Linked DNA regions of Homo sapiens: region 2 is linked to region 1. The links come from fine-mapping of genetic effects on gene expression. Tissue or cell type: whole blood. Region 1 holds a variant in brackets; the other region holds the start of a gene. All regions are shown on one strand. Distances are from middle to middle.

Region 1 (5,296 bases):
AAAAAAAAAAAAAAAAAAAAAAAAGAATGTACCTTCTATATCTGATAGCTTGATAGCTTGAGTGAGGCCCTTTCTGAGAAAGTCCATCTGAGCTGAGATCTGGATGTCAGGAAGGAGCTAGCTCTCTGAATACTTTTCCTAGGAGAAAGTATTCTAGGCAAAGGGAATAGCAGGTGCAGAGTCCCTGAGGTAGGAATGAGCTTGATATGTTCCAGGAACAGAAGGAAAGTCAATATGAATGGAGCATAGTGGGCAAGGAGGAGAGTGATGTGAGCTAACCCCTTGAGAGACAGTCAGAGGCCAGATCGAGTAGGGCCTTCGAGGCCAGAGTATGGACTTCAGCCTTAGCTAATGCAGTACATTCACTGACACCTACGGGTGGTTTGCCAAGCACTTGTCAGGTACAAATTGGTCTCATCTTATACAATGGAGAGAGCATTTTGAGATTATTATCATTATCACTTTTTTTTTTTTTTGAGACAGTCTGGCTCTGTCACCTAGGCTGGCGTGATCTTGGTTCACTGCAACCTCAGCCTCCCAGGTTCAGGCAATTCTCCTTGCCTCAGCCTCCAGAGTTGCTGGGATTACAGGCGCCCGCCTCCATGCCCGGCTCATTTTTGTATTTTTAGTAGAAATGGGGTTTCACCATGTTGGTCAGGCTGGTCTTGAACTCCTGACCTCGTGATCCACCCAGCTCGGCCTCCCAAGGTGCTGGGATTACAAGTGTGAGCCACCGTGCCCATCCCATCCTCACATTTTGAGATTAAAAGTACCTTACAGGCTGGGTGTGGTGGCTCACGCCTGTAATCCCAGCACTTTGGGAGGCCAAGTCAGGAGGATTATTTGAGCCTGGGAGTTTGAGACCAGCCTGTGCAACATGGTGAGACCTCGTCTCTACAAAACATAAAAAATTAGCCAGGCATGGTGGCATGTGCCTGTAGTCCCAGCTACTTGGGAGGCTGAGGCAGGAGGATCAGTCGAGCCCAGAAGATTGAGGCTACAGTGAACTGTGTTCATGCCACTGCACTCCAGCCTGGGTGACAGAGTGAGACCTTGTCTCCAAAAAAATCAAATAAATCAAATAAATAAAAAATTTAAAAGTACCTTAGAGAGCATGCTTAGCCTAATCCTTTTCTTTTGCAAATAAGGAAACGAAGAAGAGTTCTAAAGTGTTCTCACAGCCAGGGTCTGCGCATCCCTGTGCCTCTTCCATAGACAAGCTCCTGAAAAGGAGGACTCAGTTCTTACAATTTCATTCAGATGTTCTTGAAGGAATCTTATCTTCTTATGAACTCCTTTGTAAAGAAAAATTACTCTCGCCCCTCCCATTTACTTTTTTTGTAAATGTAGATTTTTATCAATCGGATTTTCCTTCTTTTTTTTTTTGAGATGGAGTCCTGCTGTGTCGCCCAGGCTGGTGTGCAGTGAGTGGCATGATCTCGGCTCACTGCAACCTCTGCCTCCCGACTTCAAGTGATTCTCCTGCCTGAGCCTCCTGAGCAGCTGGGACTACAGGCGCGTACCACCACACCCAGCTGGTTTTTGTATTTTTAGTAGAGACGGGGTTTCACCACATGGCCAGGCTGGTTTCGAATTCCTGACCTCGTGATCCACCCGCCTCGGCCTCCCAAAGTACTGGGATTACAGGTGTGAGCCACCGTGCCTGGCCCATTAACTATCTTGCTATGGCATCATTTAAAATAGCTGCATACCCTCCTGTTATATGACTGTGCCATAATTTACTTAACCAATCTCCTCCTGTTGGACTCAGAGGAATTTTTAAAAATTCATTTAGCCAGGCTGGGGGTGATGGCTCACACCTATAATCCCAGAGCTTTGAGAGGCCCAGGCGGGAGGATTGCTTGAGGCCAGGAGTTTAAGGCCAGCCTGGGCAACATAGGGAGACCGTATCTCTACAAAACAAAAACAAAAACAACAACAACCAAAAAACAACAACAACAACAAAACCCCCCATATATATATATCTCTCTTCCTTTTCTTTCTATCACCACCACCAATTCAGTAGCACAGGTGGCTTACTGAGTCACTCCTATATAATCCCAGCTGACTTCTAAATGATGTCACTTCCCCAGGCTTCCCCTCCCATCCCACGTCCTCATGTCGGTCTGAGGGATTTTTTTTTTTTTTTT[A/TA]ATTTTTGAGAAGGAGTCTCGCTCTGTCACCCAGGCTGGAGTGCAGTGGAGCGATCTTGGCTCACTGCAACCTCTGCCTCCCAGGTTCAAGCGATTCTCCTGCCTCAGCCTCCCGAGAAGCTGGGACTATAGGTGCATGCCACCACCCCTGGCTAATTTTTTGTATTTTTAGTAGAGACGGAGTTTCACCGTGTAAGCCAGGATGGTCTCCACTTGCTGATCTCATGATCCGCCCGCCTTGGCCTCCCAAAGTGCTGAGATTACAGGCGTGAGCCACTGCACCCGGCTGGGATTTCTTAAGTCACTGCTTTTCTCATGTCCTCTGTCAGCCCCAAGAACGGCTCCATCTTAACTTTGCAACTGGTTCAAACATCTCAGCCTTTTTTTCTTTTTGAAGGTTTCCCCAAATCAGTCCCATTTAATCTCCCTCCACTATGATAGTCATTTGTTTCTGGGCCTGGCTTGTGCTGCTGGTCCTGTTGGGAATGCCTCCTCTCATCCCACTGTTTCCAGCCCCTTCCTCCAGTGAGGGCCCGCTTACATCTCACCAGCTTCATAACCCTCCCAAGGCTGTGCTTGCCTGTGAATTTCGCCTTTCTTTGAGCGTCTGTTTCAGTGAGATGGAACCACCCAGTTTAGGAGGCAGTAAGAAAACAAGCAAGACTGTGTCTCTCACCGCATAGTTGCACTGGCCATCTGACAGGTCCTGGAGCACACTCATTTCTTTTCTTTTCTTTTTTTTTCTTTTTGAGATAGATTATTACTATGTTACCCAGGCTGGCCTCAAACTCCTGGGCTTAAGGGATGATCTCTCGTCGCTGGGACTACATGTGTGTGCTCCTGCACCAGGCTCTGGAACACTCTTATTTCTCTCTCACCCCTCAGCTTTATGTTTTCCATCCCTCTTCCTGGAATGCCCTTCTTTCAACTCATTACAGCTGGCTCCTTCTTGATATTCAGATCTAGTGTAAATGTCACTTCCTTGGAGACACTATCCCTGCCCCTTGTCAGAAGTAACTCCCTTGCTCCTATCACAGCATCCTGCTTGTTTCTTTCAAACTCTGTATCCCAAGCTGTCCTCACTGCATTTCTTTTCACCGTGATTGCCTGTCTGCCCCACTGCACCTAACCTCCCAAAGAGCCTCTCTTATTCACCTGTTCATCCCTAGCTCCTGTACAGTGCTGGGGTGCTCAGTAAGTGTTTGCTGAATGAACAGATGAGATTGGACAGAACGGGGAAGGAGAAGGGAGACATCAAGGTATCCTTTGAATTTCTGGCTTGGGAAGTTGAACTGATGGCAGGTGGTGCTACTGGCTGATCTTGGGAGCTCTGGAAGTCACATGTGGGTGGGGTGAACTGAGATCATGATTTGTCTTTTGTAGCTGTTTGAATTGCCTCTAAACCATTTAAGTATAGAATATCTGGAGGTGGTTAAATATATGGGCCTGGAGCTCGAGAGCAATGCTTGGGCACCATCCAAATCATAAGAATAGCTACCATGGCTAGACATGAGAAGCTGCCCAAAGCCATGTATTAGTCTGTTCTCACACTGCTAATAAAGACATACCAAAGACTGGATAATTTATATAGGAAAGGTTTAATTGACTCACAGTTCCAATGTGTCACCTGGGGAGGGCTGGGGAGGCCTCACAATCATGACAAAGGCAAGGAGGAGCAAAGCCACATCTTACATGGTGGCAGGCAAAACAAGAATGAGAGCCAAGCAAGAGGAGAAACCCCTTATAAAACCCTCAGATCTCGTGAGACATATTCACTACCACGAGAACAATATGGGGGAAACCGCCCCCATGATTCAATTCTCTCCCACCAGGTCCCTCCCACAACACATGGGAATTATGGGAGCTAACAATTCAAGATGAGATTTGGGTGGGGACACAGCCAAACCATATCAGGCCACTTGGCCAATAAGTGACCAAGCCAGGATTTGAACCAGGTGGTTTGTTTCCAGTGCCCATCATACCACTGGACTGAGATAGGTGTGTAAGGGACAAAAACCAAGATGAGTTCCTTGCCTCTGAGGGTCTTATTGTTTTTGGGGGGAAATAAAACATAAATACTCATAACTTACCAGACTGGAAGGGCTTGCATAAGAGCCCTGTTAGTTTTATTTGACCCTTATCCAAGCTTAAGTGCAGTGATTGTTTGGTTAAAATGGTAAGTCAGTGTCAGCCACTTCCTCCGATTCCTGAAGCCTTAGGATCATGTGACCATGATAATTCATTAAAATTAGCTAAGGATGTTGGAAATGCAAAATCCTCTCCATAGATCATCATTTATTTTGGAAATATGATTCATAGCCCTCAGGAATGGAAAACAGGAAGCTGAAAAGTCACAGTAAAAGTGAAAGAAGATAGGAATTTCTAATCTATTCAAAAAAGAGAAGTTGAATCAGGGGATCCTCAGGGATTCCTGAATGATGACTGCATGGGATTAGAACATGGGTTGAGAAACATACAAGCAGCAGAGGGTGAAACCCCACTCGGTGCATTCCAGTGGGTAATTTGAATAAATGGGGGTGGTGGTCATGGTTCCTTATTGCCTCTAGTAGGCAGGGCTTTGTGTAGACCATGACTTTTGGTAGAAGCCAAACGAAGATTAATTTTTTAGGGCTGCTGGTTGGCCTGGAATTAGGGTGTTTTTTTTTTTTGAGACAGCGTTTCGCTCTTGTTGCCCAGGCTGGAGTGCAATGGTGTGATCGTGGCTCACTGCAACCTCTGCCTCCCGGGTTCAAGCAATTCTCCTGCTTCAGCCTCCCAAGTAGCTGGGATTACAGGTGCCCGCCACCACGCCTGGCTAATTTTTTGTATTTTTAGTAGAAACAGGGTTTCACCATGTCGGCCAGGCTGGTCTCAAACTCCTGACCTCAGGTGATCACCCACCTCAGCCTCCCAAAGTGCTGGGATTACAGGCGTGAGTCACCGCACCCAGCTGAAGTAGGGATGTTTTAATAACCTCTTTACCTCAGTGGTGAGGGAGGGATTCCCAGTTCCCACCCCAGGGTTATGGCGGTAGCTGAACACATGACACCCAACACTGGGCAAATGAGATTGGCAGCAGTTTTTGGTCACACACACTCACAGCTCGGGGAGGAAGACCCCACTTGCCGTGCAGGGCCACACAGAAA
Region 2 (5,000 bases), 100 kb before region 1:
CTAACAGTTTGCCATTTGCCTCACAGCCATTTATAAGTACTAAAAGGAATAAAACTTTACAACATTCCTTATGCTCCCTGTCCCGTTCTGTGCTTTTTTCCTTCTTTGTGGCACACTGTCATGAATTTAATGTATATTCTTCTCTTTGACTTTAAAAATCTTGTATGTAAGCATGTGTCCATGAACAGTATCTACTGCATGGGATTTTAAGGTACACACAAATTGTACATCATGTTGTATTCTGCAACTTGCTGTTTTACTCAACATTATGTTTTTGGGATTTCCTTATGTCAGTACAGATCCAGTGCACCCCTTTTATCTATTAGATGGTATTCCATCAAACAACTATAATGAGTTTCATTTATCCATTCCTTTGATGAACATATAGGAAGTTGTTCCCAGGTGGTTTTTTTTTTGTGTTTTTGTTTTGTTTTGTTTTGTTTTTGAGATGGAGTCTTGCTCTGTCACCCAGGCTGGAGTGCAGTGGCATGATCTCGGCTCACTGCAACCTCTGCCTCCCGGGTTTCAAGCGATTCTCCTGCCTCAGCCTCCTGAGTAGTTGGGATTACAGGCGCGCGCCACCATGCCTGGCTAATTTTTGCATTTTTTTTTTAAGTAGAGACGGGGTTTCACCATGCTGGTCAGGCTGGACTTGAACTCCTGACTTCGTGATCTGCCCACCTTGGCCTCCCAAAGTGCTGGGATTACAGGCGTGAGCCACTGTGCCCAGACTTTTTTTTTTTTTTTTGAAACAGTCTTGGTCTGTCGTCCAGGCTGGAGGGTAGTGGTGCGATCTCTCTGCCTCCCGGTTCAAGTGGTTCTCGTGCTTCAGCCTCCTGAGTAGCTGGGATTACGGGCACCGCCACCACACCGGGCTAATTTTTGTATTTTTGATAGAGATGGGGTTTCACCATGCTGGCCAGGCTAGTCTCGAACTTCTGGCCTCAAGTGATCTCTCCGCCCGGGCCTCCCAAAGTGCTGGGATCATAGGCGTGAGCCACCATGCCCGGCCTCAGGTTTTTGCCATTTCCAGCAAATGCATGCACGTTGAGTAACATCAGAAGAGGTGGATGGCCGAGCATGTTGGCTCATGCCTATAATCCCAGCACTTTGGGAGGCAGAGGCAGGAGGATCACTTGAGCCCAGGAGTTTGAGACCAGCCTGGGCAACATAGGGAGAACTCTGTCTCTACAAAAAATAGAAAAAATTAGCCAGGTGTGGTGGTGTGTGCCTGTAGTCCCAGCTACTCAGGAGGCTGAGGCTGGAGGATCACCTGAGCCTGGGGAGGTCGAGGGTGCAGCGAGCCGTGATCGTGCTACTGCACTCCAGCCTGGGCAACACAGAGAGACCCTGTCTCAAAACAAACAAACAAACAAACAAACAAACAAACAAAAAAAACAAAGAAAAAAAAATGGGAGTGGGCCGGGCGCGGTGACTCACACCTGTAATCCCAGCACTTTCGGAGGCCAAGGCGGGTGGATCACGAGGTCAGGAATTCAAGATTAGCCTGGACAACATGGTGAAACCCCATCTCTACGAAAAATACAAAAATTAGCCAAGTATGGTGGCCGGCGCCTGTAATCCCAGCTACTCGGGAGACTGAGGCAGAGAACTGCTTGAACCTGGGAGGCAGAGGTTGCAGTGATCCGAGATCGCGTCACTGCACTCCAGCGTGGGCGACAGAGCGAGACTCCGTTTCAGAAAAGAAAAAAAAAAAAAAAAAAAAGGGAGTCGGGGTGGAGCTCTCATTGGCTCGTTGCATGTGAGTGTCCCTACGGCCTAGAAATACAAGAGAAGCACATCGGAACGGGCTGGAAATCCACCCAGTTAACTAGAGGGCTTTGAACCTTTTATTAACTTGGAGGTTGACTCTCCTGTCAACTCGATTCCCTTTTGGCTGTTTGGCAGGGTCAGTGAGACATCCCCTGGGTCGCTCGACCCCGTAGGACGGTTCAGGGAGCCCTCCAGGTCTTCGTTTCTCCTCTTCCCCGCACAGTGCTGTTATCCAGCTGGGGGATCCAACGCACACTTAAGGCTCCAGCAAAGTAAGTGCCAAAAAGGGGAGAATGGGAAGAATATGCTGTATTTCACAAAAAGCATCTAAGTAGCCATCTGGAAAAGCCAGAATGAACTTCAATGGTGCATCCAGGTGGGCTGGGGATGGGAGAGGAACGCCTTCCCCCAGCCTTTAGGGCCGGCCCTGAGCAAGTGGTCAGTCGGCAGGCAGCTGCGGAAGGGGGCTCCCCCGAGTCGGTGGTGGCCCAAAGTCCAGGCCGCATCCACCGCCCGGCGCCTAGCGCAGGGGCAGCAGCCGGGTCGCCACAGGAGGGGCCCCGGGTGTTCTTGCCGGCTTGGGGGAACTTTCCCAGGGTCAGCCCGGAGGCGCCCTGCAGCCCCGGCATTTGGCTAAACAAAGCAAGCGCTGCCGGCGCGGCCCGCCCGAGGGCGCCGCGGGAAGAACCTGGGCAGGTGCGCGCCGCGGGCGAGCGGGTACAAAGTTGCGGCGCCACCTCCTGCGCTCCGCGCCCCTCCAGGCTCTCCTCCCAGCCGCCTCCGATCCTCCCGGCCGGGCCTCTCTTCCCCCGTTCTTCGCCTCCTCCCTTTCTGCTCCTTGCCCTTCGCCTCTTCGCTACTTTCGTCTTTGCAGGCTCCCGCCTCCCCACCCCTCCCCGGCGCAGGGCCGAGCCGGCGGGGGCGCGCAGGGGGCGGTGCGCGGCGGGCGCGGGCGGTTCCGCTTTCGGGTTTCCCGCCGCCGTGGCCAATCCCCGCGCTGCCCGGGGCGGCGACGCGCCCAAGCCGAGCCGGGCGGCTCCTCCCGCCCCCGCCCCCCGCGCGCCCGCCGCCCGGGCGGAGGAGAGGAGCGCGCGGCCGCGCAGAGCAAGCTGAGCCGAGCCGAGCCGAGCTGGGGGCGCAGAGCGCGGGAGGCGGCGGCGGCGCGGAGCCCAGGTGAGCTGGCGGTAGCCGGGCCCGGGGCAAGGGACGCAGCCGCCGCGGCCCCGGGCGCCCGCTCCGTTTCCCTCTCGAGGCGGGGGACCGCCGCCGGCATGGCACACAAAGCCCGGAGGCTGGCCTGGGGCTCCCAACACGGAGGGACCCCACGTGCGCCTCCCCACGCCCCGCCACGTGGAGGGACACGGTCCCCGACAGCCCTTCCCCCGCGTCCTCTGGGCGCCCTGGGCCTCGGGATGGCCTCCTCGGCTGGGCCGCGCCCTGTCCGGGTGGCAGGGGCGGTCCTGGAGTTTGGAACCGGGGTCACCGGGGGCCGGGTCCGTCAGGGTTCGTGGAGGCGGCCTAGGCCCAGCCCCTCGCGTTTGACAGGTGGGGAAATCTGGAGCGTTCCGGGGAAGAGAGGACCAGCGGACTTGGAGCACCCCCACCCCGCAGCCTGCCTGTCTCGGGGCAAACCCAGGCCCTGGTGGCTTGGACACCAGGTGGCAGGACCCTAGGCCAGCAGTTGTGGGGACCTAGGGGACCTTTGGCTGTCTTCGGTCTGCCCTTTGACCACCCCCACCGCACCTCTTCTCTCAGCCGGAGCCTCACAGGCTTGGTCCTTCTGACCTAAATTCACCTCGGGGTTGCAGTATGCTGTGAATGCGGAGAGGCGTCCGCCTGACTCTCAGGGACACTGGACCCAGCCCCTCTCAGCATTGGGGCTCTGTGCCTGGGGTGCCACCCGACCCAGCCTTGAGCTTTTCCTGGCTTTCCCCCAGCCCCTGCACTGCCTAGCTGGGGAAGTGGGTGCTTTCACAGCTCTGCCAGCCTGCCCTCCTGGCCACTCTCACTTAGTGCTGGACAGGATGCAGCTCAGCCCCTCCGATCTCCCCGAGAAGGCTGAGCTTTGGGGAGGGCGTCTCAGTGCTATCAGCAAGAGAGGGATACCTGGCCTCCGGATGGGACCTGCAGCGTCCATCTCCCTACAGGCTACTTTTACCTTCCCCAGCCTGGTGTTTGGAGTCTCCACGCAGGGGATAGAAACTTCAGGTGCCCTAGAGCTGTGCTGCCATTTACCACTCCCCCTCCCCTAGCTCTGCCCCCAGAGGAGAGAGAAGAGGATGGCTTTATGTCCCCATAAGCTCCTTTGTTCCTTGGAGGAGGCGGGGGCTGCAACAAGGGGAGGGCTTTGGGGGAGTTAGCCACCCTCTTCCCTAATCACCCCACAAAAACATGCAGTTTCAGAATAAATAGTGTGCATGCCATGCAAATGCAGCTTTAGGGCAAGCCCCACATACCCCTTCCAGACTGCTGCTCATACACCCTTCCTATGGAGGAAGCAGGCATTGGTGACACACACCCTTCCTATGGAGGAAGCAGGCATTGGTGATGAGGACGCAAAACATATTTTTGTAATGAAGAGTAATAGCCATCATTTGATGAGCCCCTAACTTGGATAATAATAAGAATACTTATTTATTTATTTTGAGACGGAGTCTCTGTTGCCCAGGGTGGAGTGCAGTGGCACAATCTTGGCTCACTGCAACCTCCGCCTCCCGGGTTCAAGCGATTCTCATGCCTCAGCCTCTCCAGTAGCTGGGATTACAGGCGCCCACCACCATGCCTGGCTAATTTCTGTATTTTTAGTAGAGAAGGGGTTTCACCATGTTGGTCAGGCTGGTCTTGAACTCCTTACCTCAAGTGATCCGCCTACGTCAGTCTCCCAAGTGCTAGGATTACAGGCATGAGCTGCCACCTGGCCCTGGACAATAATAATAATAACAGTATTAAAAACTAACATCTATTGAGTTCTTGCTGCCTGCCAGATTCTGTGCTATGTGTTACATGCATTATCTCATTTAATGCCTACCAAATCCTACAACGTAGGGAATTTTAACCCCATAGTAGAGATTAGGAGACTGAGGTTTACAGAAATCCTGCAGTGTTGCTAGGATTTAGCCCCATTTTATAGAAGGGCTCAGAGAAGTTAAGTAACTTGCTCAGGGTCACACAGCCAGTGCAGGCATGTCAGGCCTTAGAACCTTTGTGCACCTGTTCAAGAGCAGAGA

The links. PIP is the estimated chance that this variant, and not a neighbour inherited with it, causes the effect.
Region 2: CAMKK2 starts here. The variant in region 1 is fine-mapped to the expression of CAMKK2 in whole blood (INTERVAL, PIP above 0.99).

The regions. Positions count from the first base shown.
Region 1 is chr12:121,189,952-121,195,247 of GRCh38, reverse strand. All of the region lies in intron 2 of LOC105370032 (a long non-coding RNA gene), which reads left to right. Among named protein-coding and RNA genes, the nearest start is that of P2RX4, 18 kb to the left of the region's middle. RefSeq lists an enhancer at 4,820-5,296. The variant A/TA (reference allele first, on the strand shown) is at 2,151.
Region 2 is chr12:121,294,584-121,299,583 of GRCh38, reverse strand. It overlaps CAMKK2 (calcium/calmodulin dependent protein kinase kinase 2), which reads left to right and starts at 2,875. Exons shown (of 17, transcript NM_001270485.2): 1 at 2,875-2,946. RefSeq lists a silencer at 2,190-3,339.